2 linked regions of the Homo sapiens genome follow. The protein of the gene in region 1 purifies or fractionates together with the protein of each later gene. This does not show direct contact. Each region holds a gene or a part of one and is shown on either strand. Other genes may lie near its edges. The genes, in order: ATP6AP1 and ATP6AP2.

Evidence for each region.
Region 2: the proteins of ATP6AP1 (region 1) and ATP6AP2 purify together in Homo sapiens (affinity purification with mass spectrometry; 7 studies listed by BioGRID and IntAct, with this or other methods). This does not show direct contact.

What each region holds. Positions count from the first base shown.
Region 1 is NC_000023.11:154,423,823-154,431,676, reverse strand, and holds the start of ATP6AP1 (V-type proton ATPase subunit S1 precursor), read right to left. Parts: upstream 3,001-7,854; 5' UTR 2,985-3,000; coding exon 2,824-2,984; intron 2,630-2,823; coding exon 2,503-2,629; intron 1-2,502. UniProt on the Homo sapiens protein: Accessory subunit of the proton-transporting vacuolar (V)-ATPase protein pump, which is required for luminal acidification of secretory vesicles.
Region 2 is NC_000023.11:40,597,620-40,605,335, forward strand, and holds part of ATP6AP2 (renin receptor precursor), read left to right. Parts: coding exon 1-45; intron 46-1,061; coding exon 1,062-1,115; intron 1,116-1,972; coding exon 1,973-2,122; intron 2,123-3,142; coding exon 3,143-3,262; intron 3,263-7,716. UniProt on the Homo sapiens protein: Multifunctional protein which functions as a renin, prorenin cellular receptor and is involved in the assembly of the lysosomal proton-transporting V-type ATPase (V-ATPase) and the acidification of the endo-lysosomal system.

The sequences.
Region 1 (7,854 bases):
GGTGGGGTGGGAGACTCACCTCTTCCCTCCAGCACTCTCAGGGCAGGGTGAGAAGACATGGAAGGCAGTCATGGGGTGGGGAGATCTGCAGGCAGCTGACTTGTGGTAACTCAGGAGTAGGAGTCAGCCGCCTTGCCCACCCTACAGACAAGAGGAACTGGGGAGGGAACAGGGAAGCTGCGGGGAGGGGGTGGGGCAGCCAAGAGCATTTGTGGCAGGCCTCCCAGCCAGAGAAAAGGAGAGTCGGCTATGTCCAGTCTGGACGGGACCCTCCCCCCACCTGCTTTTGGCGGAAGGGGAGAGGTGAGGATCTCAGAACATGCTGGAGGAAGCATCGAGCATTGAAGTCTTTTGAGCTCTTAGGACCACAGTGGCCCCGACCCCATCCCTTTTTCTCCACAACCTACAGATGTCCTTTGTCCTTTTGCTCCTACCCTCCACTCCCATCCCCAGCTTCCTCTGGCCCTTCCCAGTTAGGCCCTGAGGAGATTTTAATCAGCTTCCCTAACCTGTTTGGTATACACACTCGCCCAGCCTCCCCTCCCTTGTGGGCAGGACCTTGCTGCTGTTTGGCCACCGGGGTTCTCAGTCGGAAAGCCCAGGAACTGCTGGTGGGTCCTGTGGGCTTTCTTTAATTGAGAAATCACACCACTCCCTGCTCCACGTTACCCAAGGCTTTCTCACACATTTCGAACTGCAACTGACCTTCCCCCTCATGGCCTACAAGGTCCTACTTCATCGCCTAGCCACCTGCAAACCATCTCCTACATCTCCTACCCCTTTCTCTCACTCACTGTGCTCCAGCCACACCAGCTCTTCCTTGAGCTGGCCAAGAGCACACCTCGCCCAGGACCCTCGCATTTGCTGTTCCAGGAATGTCCTTCCCCAAACGGCTCCCTCCCTCCATTAAGATCGCTGCTCATATATCACCTCCTCAATGAGGCCTGGCCTGACCACCCTTATCTAAAATAGCATCCCAGTCACTCTGTCCCCTTAGCCTGCTTCCTTCCCTAAAGGCCGTAACACTGACATCATATCCTATACCGACTTAGTATTTACTGGCCACCCTCACAAGAATGTCAGCTTCCTGAGGGTGGGGGCTTGGGTTCTTCTGCTCACTGCCATATCCCCAACACTTCACAATACCTGGCACATAGTAGGCTTTCCATATTGGGCAAATGAATGAATGGGTGAATGCCCTAAGACTGGGGGATCCTGGCTAGATGTTTTATGTGGATTATAAGAATTCCCCCTCACAGGCCGGGCGCGGTGGCTCACGCCTGTAATCCCAGCAGTTTGGGAGGCTGAGGTGGGTGGATCACGAGGTCAGGAGTTCAAGACCAGCCTGGCCAACATGGTGAAACCCCATCTCTACTAAAAATACAAAAAAATACAAAAATTAGCTGGGTGTAGTGGCGGGCGCCCTGTAATCCTAGCTACTCGGGAGGCTGAGGCAGAGAACTGCTTGAACCCGGGAGGCGGAGGGTGCAGTGAGCTGAGCTGACATTGCACCACTGCATTCCAGCCTGGGCAACAGAGCGAGACTCCGTCTCAAAAAAAAAAAAAAAAAAGATTTCCCACTCACAGCCCTCTGATATAGGTGGTGTCTTCATTTTACAGATGTAGAAACTGTCATTCACAAAGATTATTTCATGCCTCCAATGGCTGGTTACATGGTAGAACTAGGACTCAGTTCCTATTTGACTATATTATTTACCACCTCCTGAAAAGACTTCAGGCCACCACCATCTGCCCACACAGCAACCAAGGGAGACTACAAGGGCAATGAGCCATACAGGCCACCAACAAGGGAGGGCCTAGCAGAGACTTGCTATCTTAGAGTCATCTCATGGTCTCCACGCCTGCTTTTGGGGCAAAGATCCTGGATGGGAAGGAAAACAGCATGCGGGTTATGAGCTCCAATTGGGAGGGAGGATTGGCAGACTCAGGCTGGAACCAAAGTGGTATCTATCAACTGTAGTGAAACATTGTATCTCGACAAACCTTACTTTCCTTGGCAGTGAAACCAAGATAATGACATCAGTGTAGCAAGTGCCTACAAAGCACTAAACAGGTGAGCATTTTCCAATTATCATTATTATGATCATCACAGCTAGAATTACAACTCTGCCACCCATTAGCTGTATGAGCTTGGACAAGTCACTTAACCTCCAGCCTCAGTCTTCTCATCTATAAACAAACAGGGACGATAATCCCCACCCACCATATTGGACTAAGTCAGATATCCAAAGTGCTTGGTACTCAGTAGGTACCTGGCCTCTGGTCCGTCGCTTCCTCCAATCAAGTTGGTGCCATTTCCGAGGCTGTCGCCATGCCCACTGAAGCGTTTACTACAGGCCTTCCCATGAGACGACCCACACCTCCCTACAGTTGGGACAAGGTCACTGAAGCTTCCCTTGGGGAATGGGCGTCAGTGTCATGGGGGGAGGGGGCCTGGCTGCCTCCCGATGACCGGGGGAGAGTGGGCTGGGGCGGGCGCACCTTGTCCTGCAGGAACAGCAGCACATTCCTGGGACCCAGCTCCAGGGCGGGATCTAAGTAGGTAGAGAGCTGCAAGTCGCTGGTGATGTGGCCTTCATGAGTGTCGGCCGCAGGAGCCCACAAGTCCCTGGCAGGGCACAGAAGAGGTGCTGTCAGACGGGGGCGCATGTGGACTGGAGCTCTGTCGCCGGCAGATTCGCTGCGAGCCCCCGAGCAAGGAACAGTCCACCTCCGGGCCTCACCACCCCTCGCCTAGGACAGCGCCGGAGTCGGGCGAGGGCGCCTCAGCCGCCACAGCGCATCCCACCCCGGCCCGCTCACCGGTCACTCGACCACAGCACCAGCGGGACCTGCTGCTCCGCCGCTGCCGCCGCCGCCGCCGCCGCCAACGACAAAAACACCGGCAGCCACGGCATGCGCCAGAGCGCCTGGGCGCACCGCGGCCCCATCCGCACTCGAGCCGTCGCCATGGCCGCCATCATAGCCTCAGCCTCCACTGCCTCAGCGGCCTCGACAGCCGCAGATCAGGTGACCGTTGCCCCCGCCCGAGCCCCGCCTCGCACCTCCATTGGCCCCAGCGCGGGCCGACCGGCAGGGCCGCAGGTAATTGGACCAAGTGCATGCCACTCGCGGCCACTCCTTCTCACTGGTTGGCTGTACGTGTCTCCAGGCGCTCACGCTCCGAGTGGGAAAGGGGATGGGGCCCAGCTAGACCGACTAGGACGAGACAAGAGGGACAGGGAGGCTTCGCGGAACCCTACGCCCACCCGACGCGTTCGCCCGTCCGTTTTTATTTTTATTTTTATTTTGGTTTTTTTGTTGTTGTTCTCTTCTTTTGTCTTTTTTTTTTCTTTAGAGACGGGGTCTAGCTATGTTGGCCAGGCTGGTCTCGAGTCCCCGGGCTCAAGCGATCCTCCCGCCTCAGCCTCCGGAAAAGTGGGACTACAGGCGCGCATCGCCGCACCCGGCCAATCCCTGTTTTAATCCTTTTCCTTAAAATTGCAAAAGTGGTGTCTTTTTCCTGCAGATGGACCCTCCCTGATACAGGTGAGAGGAGACTGTAATCCCTTAGAACGAGGAGTGAAGCGGGCTCAGGATAGCATCTAGGGGAACACCCAGCACTTACATTGGGCAGGAGGAGAAGGGTCCAGAAAAGAGATCGGACAAGGAGCAATCAAAGAGGAAGGAGAAAACCCAGAGCGAAGCGTGGCATCAAAGACACCCTAACGGGCCGGGCGCTGTGGCTCACGCCTGTAATCCCAGCACTTTGGGAGCCCGAGGCGGGCGAATCATGAGGTCAAGAGATCGAGACCATCCTGCACAACATGGTGAAACCCCATCTCTACTGAAAATACAAAAATTAGCTGGGCATGGTGGTGCACACCTGTAGTCCCAGTTACACGGGAGGCTGAGGCAGGAGAATCACTTGAACCCGCGAGGCGGAGGTTGCAGTGGGCCGAGATCGCGCCACTGCACTCCATCCTGGGCGACAGAGTGAGAGTCCATCTCAAAAAAAAAAAAAAAAAAAGATTGTAGTCATGATTGTCACATGTGATTCAGACTAGGACTAGGATAGTGGCAGTTGAGCTGGAGAGAGGAAGTGGGTCTGACAATACAGTCAAAGAAGATTGTAGCTTTTGGGTCTCTCTGAGTTGGGGACTGGGAGACGAGGTCACTTGGGGGCTCACTGAGTTTCGGGTGCTTAGGGAAACCCCCAAGTGGCCATTTCCAGGCCTTAACTAGCTGAGGAGAGAGGTTTTCACTGGAGCTTCACTGTATCCCAGGAGAATCCAGCAAACTTAAAAAGGAAAGCATGTCTATTATGTTTCTGTTACTTTTGTTACATAGTTTCAAGGCAAATACTTCCTCTGGAATGCGGAAGGCAATCTTGCCTCCGCCAGGACTCTGTTGCTGAGCTGCTTCCATGCTTAGGGAAGAAACCCACCTGTGGCTGCTTTTATTCTTCCCTGCATTGCTAGGGGTCCCTGGAGTGATGGCCCTGGAGGCTTCCTGAAGCACCTGCTATGGGCCAGGCACCTGGACTCTGCCCCGGAAGTTGACAGTTTGGTCTAGAGGACATGCAGGACAGCAGGTCATGATACAGGGTCATGAATATTCCAAAGGTTGAGACATGGGACTGGGAGGGATGTAAGGAGAGGGGCACCGATGAAGCTGCTCCCACCAGGAGGTGATATCTAAACTGAACCAATCACCAAATGTTGACAGCACCAATGAGCACCTTCTGTCTGGGGACTTCATCTTTAGGGTAAAAGCATTTTGTTCATTGAAATCCTGGCTGGGCGTGGTGGCTCACGCCTGTAATCCCAACACTGGGAGGCTGAGGCGGGCAGATAACCTGAGGTCAAGAGTTTGAGACCAGCCTAGCAAACATGGCAAAACCCCGTCTCTACTAAAAATACAAAAATTAGCTGGGCGTGGTGGCGGGCACCTGTAGTCCCAGCTACTCAGGAGGCTGAGACAGGACAATTGCTTGAACCTGGGAGGCGGAGGTTGCAGTGAGCCGAGATCGTGCCATTGCACTCCAGCCTGAGCAACAAGAGCGAAACTCCATCTCAAAAAAAAGAAAAAAAAAAAGGGCCGGGCACTTTGGCTCATGCCTGTAATCCCAGCACTTTGGGAGGCCGAGGCGGGCGGATCACGAGGTCAGGAGATCAAGACCATCCTGGCTAACACGGTGAAACCCCATCTCTACTAAAAATATGAAAAATTAGCCAGGCGTGGTGGCGGGCGCCTGTAGTCCCAGCTACTCGGGAGGCTGAGGCAGGAGAATGGCGTGAACCCGGGAGATGGGGCTTGCAGTGAGCCGAGATCGTGCCACTGCACTCCAGCCTGGGCGACAGAGCAAGACTCTGTCTCAAAAAAAAAAAAAAAAAGCACTTCTATGGTGAAACGTAACCCAAAAAAGAAAAGAAGTAGGCCAGGCGCATTGGCTCACGCCTGTAATCCCAGCACTTTGGGAGGCCAAGGCGGGCGGATCACCTGAGGGCAGGAGTTCGAGACCAGCCTGGCCAACATGGTGAAACCCCGTCTCTATTAAAAATACAAGATAATTAGCCGGGCATGGTGGCATGCGCCTGTAATCCCAGCTACTCGGGAGGCTGAGGCAGGAGAATCGCTTGAACCCAGGAGGCAGAGGTTGCAGTGACCAGAGATCATGCCATTGTACTCCATCCAGCCTGGGTGACAGAGCGAAACTCTGTCTCAAAAAAAAAAAAAAAAAAAAAAACCCACAAAATAAAGATGTACAGTGTAATGCTTATCAAAGCAGACAGTTCCATGGCATCACCCAGGTCAAGAATTTGAATATCATTGCCCTGAAAGCCCCTCTCATACCCTTACTATCACTTCCCAATGTGACCATGAACTTGATTCTTTTGCTAATCACTTTGGTCTTTATAGTTTGACCAGTTAAGCATGCATTCCTAAAAATGATGGGATGTGTTGTTTTGGCTGTTTTGAGGCTTTAAATAAAGGAAATTATTCAGTATAATATTTTTCCCTCCTCCACTCTTTTTTTTTTTTTTTTTTTTGGAGACAGAGTTTGGCTCTTGTTGCCCAGGCTGGAGTGCAATAGCGCCATCTCGGGTCACTGCAACCTTCGGATTCAAGCAATTCTCCTGCCTCAGCCTCCCGAGTAGCTGGGATTACAGGCATGTGCCACCACGCCCGGCTAATTTTTTGTATTTAGTAGAGACGGGATTTCACCATGTTGGTCAGGCTGGTCTTGAACTCCTAACCTCAGGTGACCCACCCACCTTGGCCTCCCAAAGTGCTGAGATTACAGGTGTGAGTCACCGCACTCAGCCTTCTCCTCCACTCTGAAGGGAAGTATTATTTTGTGTCTAGATTCTTTGCTCAACATTGGCAGATTAATTCAAGTGGCTGCATGTAACAATGTTGCTGCATAGTATTCCCCTGGATGAATACGTCACCATTGATTGTGTCCTTCAACTGTTGACATTTGGTTGGTTTCCCATTTGGGCTGTTATGGCTAATGCTGCTGTGAACAATTATGTATACGTCTTTCTTTTTCTTCTTTTTTTTTTTTTTTTTGAGACGGAGTCTCGCTCTGTCACCTAGGCTGGAGTGCAGTGGCGTGATCTCAGCTCACTGCAAGCTCCGCCTTCCGGGTTCACGCCAGTCTCCTGCCTCAGCCCCCTGAGTAGCTGGGACTACAGGTGCCCACCCCCATGCCCAGCTAATTTTTTGTATTTTTAGTAGAGACGGGGTTTCACTGTGTTAGCCAGGATGGTCTCTATCTCCTGACCTCAAGATCTGCCCGCCTCGGCCTGAGTGCTTGGATTATGGGCGTGAGCCACTGCGCCCAGCCGATGTATGTGTCTTTTGTTAAACATAGATGTTCATTTCAATAGGTATATAACTAGGTGGGGAATTGCTAGGTCATAGAGTATATGCACTGGGTTGAGTAGTGTCCCCATAAAAGTCATTGCAGACAGAATCAAGTTAAGGTGAGGTTATACTGCATAAGGGTGACCCCTAGTTCAATCAATGCATGGTGTTTTTAAAGGAGGAGAAAAAGAGACAGACACAGGGAGGAGAGCACTGCACGCAGCTGAAGGCAGAGATTGGAATGACACCTCTGCAAGCCAAGGAACACGGAGCATTGCTGGGAACCACCGGAAGAAGCCAGAAGACAGGCCTGGAGCTGGCTTTCCCTCACAGCCCCAGAAGGAACCCACCCTGGTGCCACCTTGATTTCGGACTTCTGGCCTTCAGAACTGGGAGAGAATAAATTTCTGTTGCTTTAAACTTCCCAGTCTCTGGCACTTTGTTACTGCAGCCACAGGAAACCCATACCATGCACACTCTGCCTTTTGTGTTTCCTCTTCTGTGAAATGCCTTTTTTTTTTTTTTTTTTGAGACGGAATTTCGCTCTTGTTGTCCAGGCTGGAGTGCAATGGCACAATCTTGGCTCACTGAAGCCTCTGCTTCCCGGGTTTCAGTGATTCTCCCGCCTCAGCCTCCTGAGTAGCTGGGATTACAGGCACCCACCAACATGCCCAGCTAATTTTTTTTTTTTTTTTTGTAGAGATGGGGGTTTCACCATGTTGTCCAGGCTGGTCTCAAACTCCTGGCCTCAGGTGATCCGCTCACCTCGGCCTCCCAAAGTGCTGGGATTACAGGTGTGAGCCACCACGCCCGGCCTTAACCACTTTTAACTGTACAGTTCAGTGGCATTAAGTACGTTCACACTGTTGTACAGTCATCACCACCATCCATCTTCAGAACTCTTTTCATCTTCCCAAACTAAAGCTCTGTCCCCATTATACAATTTCTCATTCCCCCATCCTCCCAGGCCCTGGAAACCAA
Region 2 (7,716 bases), about 110 Mb from region 1:
GTTCTCAGTTCACTCCCCCTCAATTCTCTGAGTAGGAACAATGAAGTAAGTGCAGTTATTCAATGAATACATGAATATCATTAATTTCCGTCTTTTTAAAAAATAGAGACAGGGTCTCACTCTGTTGTCCAGGCTGGTCTTGAACTCCTGGCCTCAAGCAATCCTGTCTTGGCCTCCCAAAGTGCTGGGATCACAGGCTTGAGCCACTGCATCTGGCCTCCCATTCCTTATACTACTTGAAATTTTGGAAATTTTGCTATTTTAGAAAATGAAAGATTGTGCACATTTACTGCTGGGGTAGATTCTTCTTTAGTGTAATTTTCTTATGACTCTCATGAATAAACTGATCCTTTTTGTGAGTTGAGCTGTGGTAAATAACATCACATTTTAGCACGAGGGTTGCCACCTATTAATTCAAACAAGCCAGAGGTCATAGATCTACTTGGTGACTGGTGGAGCTGTGTGGATCTGGTAACTTGGAAGCCATTGTTCACTGCCTCTGCTGATTTGTTGCCACATTTTTCTCATTCATTCTGGACATTGCAGTGGAGGGAGCCACCTCTACTTTTGACTCCTGTCCTTCAGTTTCTCCATCTGCTCATGCGCCCTCTTAACCATGTGGCATGCCACTTTCGTGGTGGCCTCCCCTTTTTATTTGCTGTGGATGACCAGGGCCATCATCCTTTATTCTCTGATGTGGAAACTATTCAAGGGAAGTGAGCAAACTGGGCCAATGGTAGGATGTCATTGCAGAGTGCCAGGATATCCTGATGCTTTGAAGGAAAACCACTGGAGAACTTGGATGCTTTATCATGGTTTTGCCAAAAATATAGCTATTGAGTGGCAGTCACTGTGCTAGGGAATGGCCATCACCTTTTTGTTAGGAAATAATGTTTTATATGCATTTTCAATTGAAGCAAACATACCAAATGGAAGATAATTATATAAATTCACTTATATGATCAACATTTGTAATATCCTGTGCCTTGCTTGGTAAATGGCAAATAAAGATCTCTGGTGCACATTTAAAAGAATGCTCTTTTTTTTTGGGCTCTCTGAAGGTTGACCTGCTCTTTCTTTCTGAACTGCAAGTGCTACATGATATTTCAAGCTTGGTAAGTAGGCTGCTCTAATTTTTTAATTCCATTTATTTTGGTTTCTAGAGAATCCTTGAATAATAGTAAAGGCAGTTGAAAAGTTTGATTAAGTATGCCCTAGATTTATGATCCCATGAAAATTGAAAAATTAGTGGCAATATTGGGAATTTTGAACACATCCATGTTATAGTCAAATTATTTTGCATTTCTGCTTTTTAGGGAGAGACAACATATCTTCCAAGAACACAAGCCTGGGCGTAAGAACACCCTGGCCATAGTCCTAACTTGGCTGTTGATTTCTTGTGAGACTTAATTCCTATCTATATCTTTGGGCCTAAAATAGAAATAATAGTTTGGACTAATAATGCTGTCAGTCAAGTCAAGAAGGGACGAAATCCGTCTGAAGGGTATTTTTTTGGTGAATGATTTTTTAAAAATCATCCTTGTTACTGAAATAGAAATTCTTATCTGTTTGCTACCTTCTGAAGTTGTTTTCCAAACTTTTTCAACAGGTGTTGGTTCGGGGAGTCTGGAAGTGTAGTGCATTCCTGGGATCAAACTGGTCCAGCCATCTGTTCTTTCATACGTTGGCCCATACCTGAGTTTTTAAAACTGAGGAATTTTGTTGAAAGCTTTTATTAAATATCCAAGGAGTCTTGTACTGCTCCTAAACATGAGATTCGTGTTGGATTTATCAGAAACGCTTATTCAAACCAGTTTCTTTTGCCACCATTTTAGACTATTTGCATGTTGTGGTACACTGGTATGGTTTAGTTTAGCCTAGTTTAGTTAGGCATAAAACTTTAACTGGCTGTGTTTGACGTCTTTCATCTTACTTTATCCGCTACCTTTTTTTGTTTGTTTGTTCTCCTAAGCTGTCTCGTCATAAGCATCTAGCCAAGGATCATTCTCCTGATTTATATTCACTGGAGCTGGCAGGTTTGGATGAAATTGGGAAGCGTTATGGGGAAGACTCTGAACAATTCAGAGATGCTTCTAAGATCCTTGTTGACGCTCTGCAAAAGGTAAATATCAATGCGACATGAGAGGTTGGAGTATGACCATTTCACTTTTAGCCTCTTAATAGAAAAATCTGCTGTTTCAAACACTGTTGATTGAACTCTTATTTGCCTTCTTTGGGGCTCCTCTAATTATACTGGCCAAGGATGGAGTAGGGTCAAAAATGTATATTGATATATTTCTTCCTAATGCTAGAAAGAACAGCATTAGGAAAAGTTATCTCACACAAAGCTTTACAAAATTATTGTGGTAAAATATATATAACATAAAATTACCACTTTAACCATTTTTAATTGTACAGTTCAGTGGTATTAAGTGCAAGTACGTTCACATGTTGTACAACCATCACCATCTTCTATTTCTAGAACTTTTTCTTCTTCCCCAACTGAAACTCTGTACTCCTTAAACACTATGAGATAACTGAAGTAGAACACCCAGCACAGTACCAGACAGTAGATGCATAATAAATGCTAGTTCCCCTCTGCCCTTGAAGTTCTTCACCTGCATCCTTTCAGTGAGGCTTCATATTTTAATCTTTATAGATGTTTGTGATTAACCAGAGACCACTTAGGAAGATTTCATTTCTCTTTCCAACTTCCCTTCCTCCAATTTATATGCTGACAAATTCAGTCTCTTCTTAAAGTAATTTTAGTCTAAACATTTGAATATATGTTAAAGCTTAACACTTTTCTGTATAGTTGAGCAAAATCAAAACCTTTAAGACTTGCTTATTGTAAGATGTAGTATATTTCATGAGCCAGGAGGTAAGTGTACATTGTTCTTGTAGCTGCACAAAAGCTTTAAAAATAATTTTAATAAGTATGTATTTGACTCACTGCATAAAATGATAAGTAGGAGGTAATGCATATGTTAATTAGCCAATGTGGACTTAAGCCATTCCACAATGTGTACATATTTCAAAACAATATGTTGATGTGATAAATATATATGATTTTAATTTGTTAATTAAAAATGAAAAAAGTACATAGTTGAGATTCCCAATAATGTTAATAACTAACTTTCAGTTTGCAGATGACATGTACAGTCTTTATGGTGGGAATGCAGTGGTAGAGTTAGTCACTGTCAAGTCATTTGACACCTCCCTCATTAGGAAGACAAGGACTATCCTTGAGGCAAAACAAGCGGTGAGTATATTTTGAGATCCTGCTTTAAAACTGTAAAATTAACTTCTTATAAAAAAAAAAAAACCAAGTCCTATATCACCTAAGGGTGACATGAATGAGCAGTCAGTAAATCTGAAAAACAATTTCAGTTAAAACGTAAGCTTCTTGTTCACATACATATGTGTGCTTTGCCAGTGATGATCAGTTCTTTAGGGTTATAATCAGATAATGCAAGAATTTGAATTAGGGATAAAAGTAAATCTGTCCAAGATTATAATTCAAATATCAGTACACACAAGGAGATATCAGAAGTTAATGTGGCGCCAGGTGCAGTGGCGTGCATCTGTAATTGCAGCTTCTCAGGAGGCCAAGGCAGGAGGATTGCTTTAGCTCAGGAGGAGTTTGAGGCCAGTCTGAGGAAACATAGCAAGACCCTGTTTTGAAAACAAAAAGAAGTGAATGTGTGCGGGAGTGGTGTGGTGCCCACATCCTATGGGCTCTGCTTTTCTAGCAGGCACATTGTCTTTGTGGCGTAGTCCCTCACTTACTGAGATCCTCTGTGTGCACCTCTTTATGATTTTGATTTACTTAACAGTTTTTTTGGGTATGGATCTTGCTTTGATTTTAAGCATTTAGAGGGTCAGGGTTAAGCATTACCATGGTTGCTGGCCATGGTAAAATACATATCTGTTTATGTGTATGTACGTGCACATTTACATACATACATATATACTTACAGCTGCAGCAGAACCTAGGGAGGGTGATGGGAAAGAGTAGTGTAGATGCTCCCTAACATCCTACGTCTGAGAACATTGCTTAGGGCTGGCTGTATCACTTGCAGCAGATAGATATCCACTCAATTACATACACCTCCGCTTCAGACCCATTTGCAGCCCTCACCCTGCTCAGTTTTACTGAAGTCAGTGTGGGACTTGGAGTCGGAAGGTCGAAGCCAGTGCCTGTTTGAGATAGTCTAGCGATTACTGGTTTGAGATTGTTTCTTTCTAAATTAAATTGGGGATGGAAGGACCTTTGTTTCAGACAGCATGTCAGTCTAGACAACCACCCAAGATTTCCCACCATAAAACGTCTAGAAATGCTAGATAAAAATAAAGATCTTTTAAAAAGTACATAGTTTGGGCTGGGTGTGGTGGCTCACGCCTGTAATCCCAGCACTTTGGGAGGTTGAGGCGGGCGGAACACCTGAGGCCAGGAGTTCTAGACCAGCCTGGGCAACATGGTGAAACCCCGTCTCTACTAAAAATACAAAAATTAGCCTGGTGTGGTAGCGGGCACCTGTAATCCCAGCTACTTGGAAGGCTGAGGCAGGAGAATTGCTTGTACCCGGGAGGCAGAGGTTGCAGTGAGCCAAGATTGCACCACTGCACTCTAGCCTGGGAGACACAGCAAGACTCCGTCTCAAATAAAAAAAAAATTACAAAAATAAAAATACATAGTTCAGCTCGCAAGAAAGGGAAATTCTCTTACAGAGTAAATAAAGAAGAGGAGGCCGGGTGCGGTGGCTCACACCTGTAATCCCAGCACTTTGGGAGGCCGAGGTGGGTGGATCACAAGGTTAGGAGTTCGAGACCAGCCTGGCCAACATGGTGAAACTCCGTCTCTACTAAAAACACAAAAAATCAGCCGGGCGTGGTGGCGCACGCCTGTAGTCCCAGCTACTTAGGAGTCTGAGGCAGACAAATCGCTTGAACCCGGGAGGCGGAGGTTGCAGTGAGCTGAGATTGTGCCACTGTACTCCAGCCTGGGTGACACAGTGAGACTCCATCTCAAAAAAAAAAAAAAAAACCGAATGTGGTAAGCAGGCCGCCCTAAGGATATTTGCCAGCTGGGTCACCAAGAGTCCTTTGGTGCCTTGTGTGTGGGGGATGGGAATGGACAACTCCAGATAAAGCTGGGGACCCCGAGAGAGCTGTGCCCTCAGTGAGAGGGTAGACTGGAAATTTTTGCCCACCAGCACAGGGAAACAGAAAGGCACCTGGGCTCTGGGTGGTCAGCACATGTGTTGAGAGTGGGGATGCCTCCCAGAGAATTCTTTTTTTTTTTTTTTTTTTTTTTTTTTTGGATTTTTTGGAGATAGGATCTTACTCTGTCACCCAGACTGGAGTGCAGTGGCACAATCTCAACTCACTGCAGCCTCCACCTCCCAGATTCAAGTGATTCTCCTGCCTCAGCCTCCTGAGTAGCTGGAATCACAGGCATGCACCACCACACCCGGCTAATTTTTGTACTTTTAGTAGAGATGGGGTTTTACCATGTTGGCCAGGCTGGTCTTGAACTCCTGGCCTCAAGTGATTTGCTCACCTCAGCCTCCCAAAGTGCTGGGATTACAGGTGTAAGCTACCATGCCCGGCCTATGAGATTTCTTTTTAGGGTGATAGAAATGTTCTAGAATTAGATTGTGGTGATAACTATGAAACCACTAAAATTCCTTGACTTGTACACTTAAAATGGGTAGGAAAAAGAACATGTTTATCAAAAAAAAAAAAAGGAAAGAAACAAAGAGGTCTTCATGGGCGTGAAATCCTTTAACGTTTGCCTCAGCTCTGAGCTCCCCGCAGGTAAATATGCATGCCTGTGTACCCATTCTCTCCTACATTTGAAATCACTCTCTTCCATTAGTTTAAGGAGACAGGAGTTTAAGGAACATTTACTGAGTACTCACAACATTCCAGGTGCTGGGGCTGTAGGGACAAATAGATCTCGGTTACATTTTCGTTCTCATCCTCACTGCCAGGCACCCTGCCCCCATTTCTCCCACCTCATTTGACTGCCGCCTCCTAACTTGTCTGAACTCATCTGTCTCTCTGCTTCCCAGCTGGCTCCTCCCAAATCCATCCTACACATTGTCATCAAAGTTATCTTTTTTCTTTTCTTTTTTTGAGACAGGGTCTCGCCCTGTCCCAGGCCGGAGTGCAGTGGCGCAATCATAGCTCACTGTAGCCTCAAACTCCTGGGCTCAGGTGATCCACCTGTCTGAGCCTCCTGAGTAGCCAGTTCTATAGGCTTGAGCCACCACACTCAGCTAATTTTTAATTTTAATGTTATCTTTTTAAGACAAACCTGATCATGTCACTCACTTTCTGCCTAAAGCTTGTCAATGGCTCCTTATTGCCCAGAGGCTCATGTCAGATTTTCTGTAGCTTCCCTGCTTCTAGCTTCATCTCCTGCTGTGTTCCTACTTTTAAAATTCTCTAGCCAGAATGAATGATATTTCCCAAACAGTGCCTTTGTCAGAATGAATTCAGTTTCCCAAACAATGTTTTTACACAGCTCTGTATTTTAAAAAAAAGTGTTAAGTGGATCATACATACATAAGTATATAACATATTTAATACTAGTTATTTAAATAATAAAAATAATAACACTGTATAGCTCCGTTTTCATATGGCTATAAAGAGCTACCTGACACTGGGTAATTTATAAAGGAAACAGGTTTGATTGATTCACAGTTCCACATGGCTGGGGAGGCCTTAGGAAACTTACAATCATGGAGGAAGGGGAAGGGGAGGCAGGCACCTTCTTCACAAGGTGGCAAAAGAGAGAGAAAGTGGCACACTTTTAAACCATCAGAGCTCATGAGAACTCAGTATCATGAGAACAGTATGGGGGAAACTGCCCCCATGATCCAATCACCTCCCACCAGGTCCCTCTCTCGACACGTGGGGATTACAAATCGAGATGAGATTTGGGTGGGGACACAGAGCCAAACCATATCAATAGCTTAAGAGAATGCTTGCTTCTTTGAAGCTCCCTATTTTCTCCCTCTACCCTCCCTCATCCAGAGGTAACTGCTGTCCTGGATATCATGTTAATCCCTTGCTTTTCTTTACAGATTGACTGCATATGTATTTGTTCTTAAACAGTGTTGTTTGGTTTTGCCTGTATTTGAATTTTATATAAATTGAATCATACTACATGTATTTTTCTGTGTTCTTTGTTCAGTATTCTTTTTAAGATTCACTCAGGCTGACAAATGTAGCTGTAGTTTAGTCATTTTACTGTTACATATTCTGCTTGTAGGGATATACCACAATTCCATTCTGTTGATGATTTTTTTTTTTTTTTTTTTGAGACGGAGTTTTGCTCTTGTTGCTCAGGCTGGAGTGCAATGGCACAGTCTTGGCTCACTGCAACCTCCACCTGCTGGGTTCAAGCAGTTCTCCTGCCTCAGCCTCCCGAGTAGCTGGGATTACAGGCACCTGCCACGCCTGGCTAATTTCGTATTTTTAGTAGAGACGGGGTTTCACCATGTTGGCCAGGCTGCTCTGGAACTCCTGACCTCAGGTGATCTGCCCGCCTTGGCCTCCCGAAGTGCTGAGATTACAGGCATGAGCCACTGTGCCCAGCCTTGCTGCTGATATTCTTATACATGTCTCTTGGTACACATATAGAAATTTTCCCTAGCGTATGGACTTACTGGATCACAGGATATGCACACCTTCAACTTTATTAGG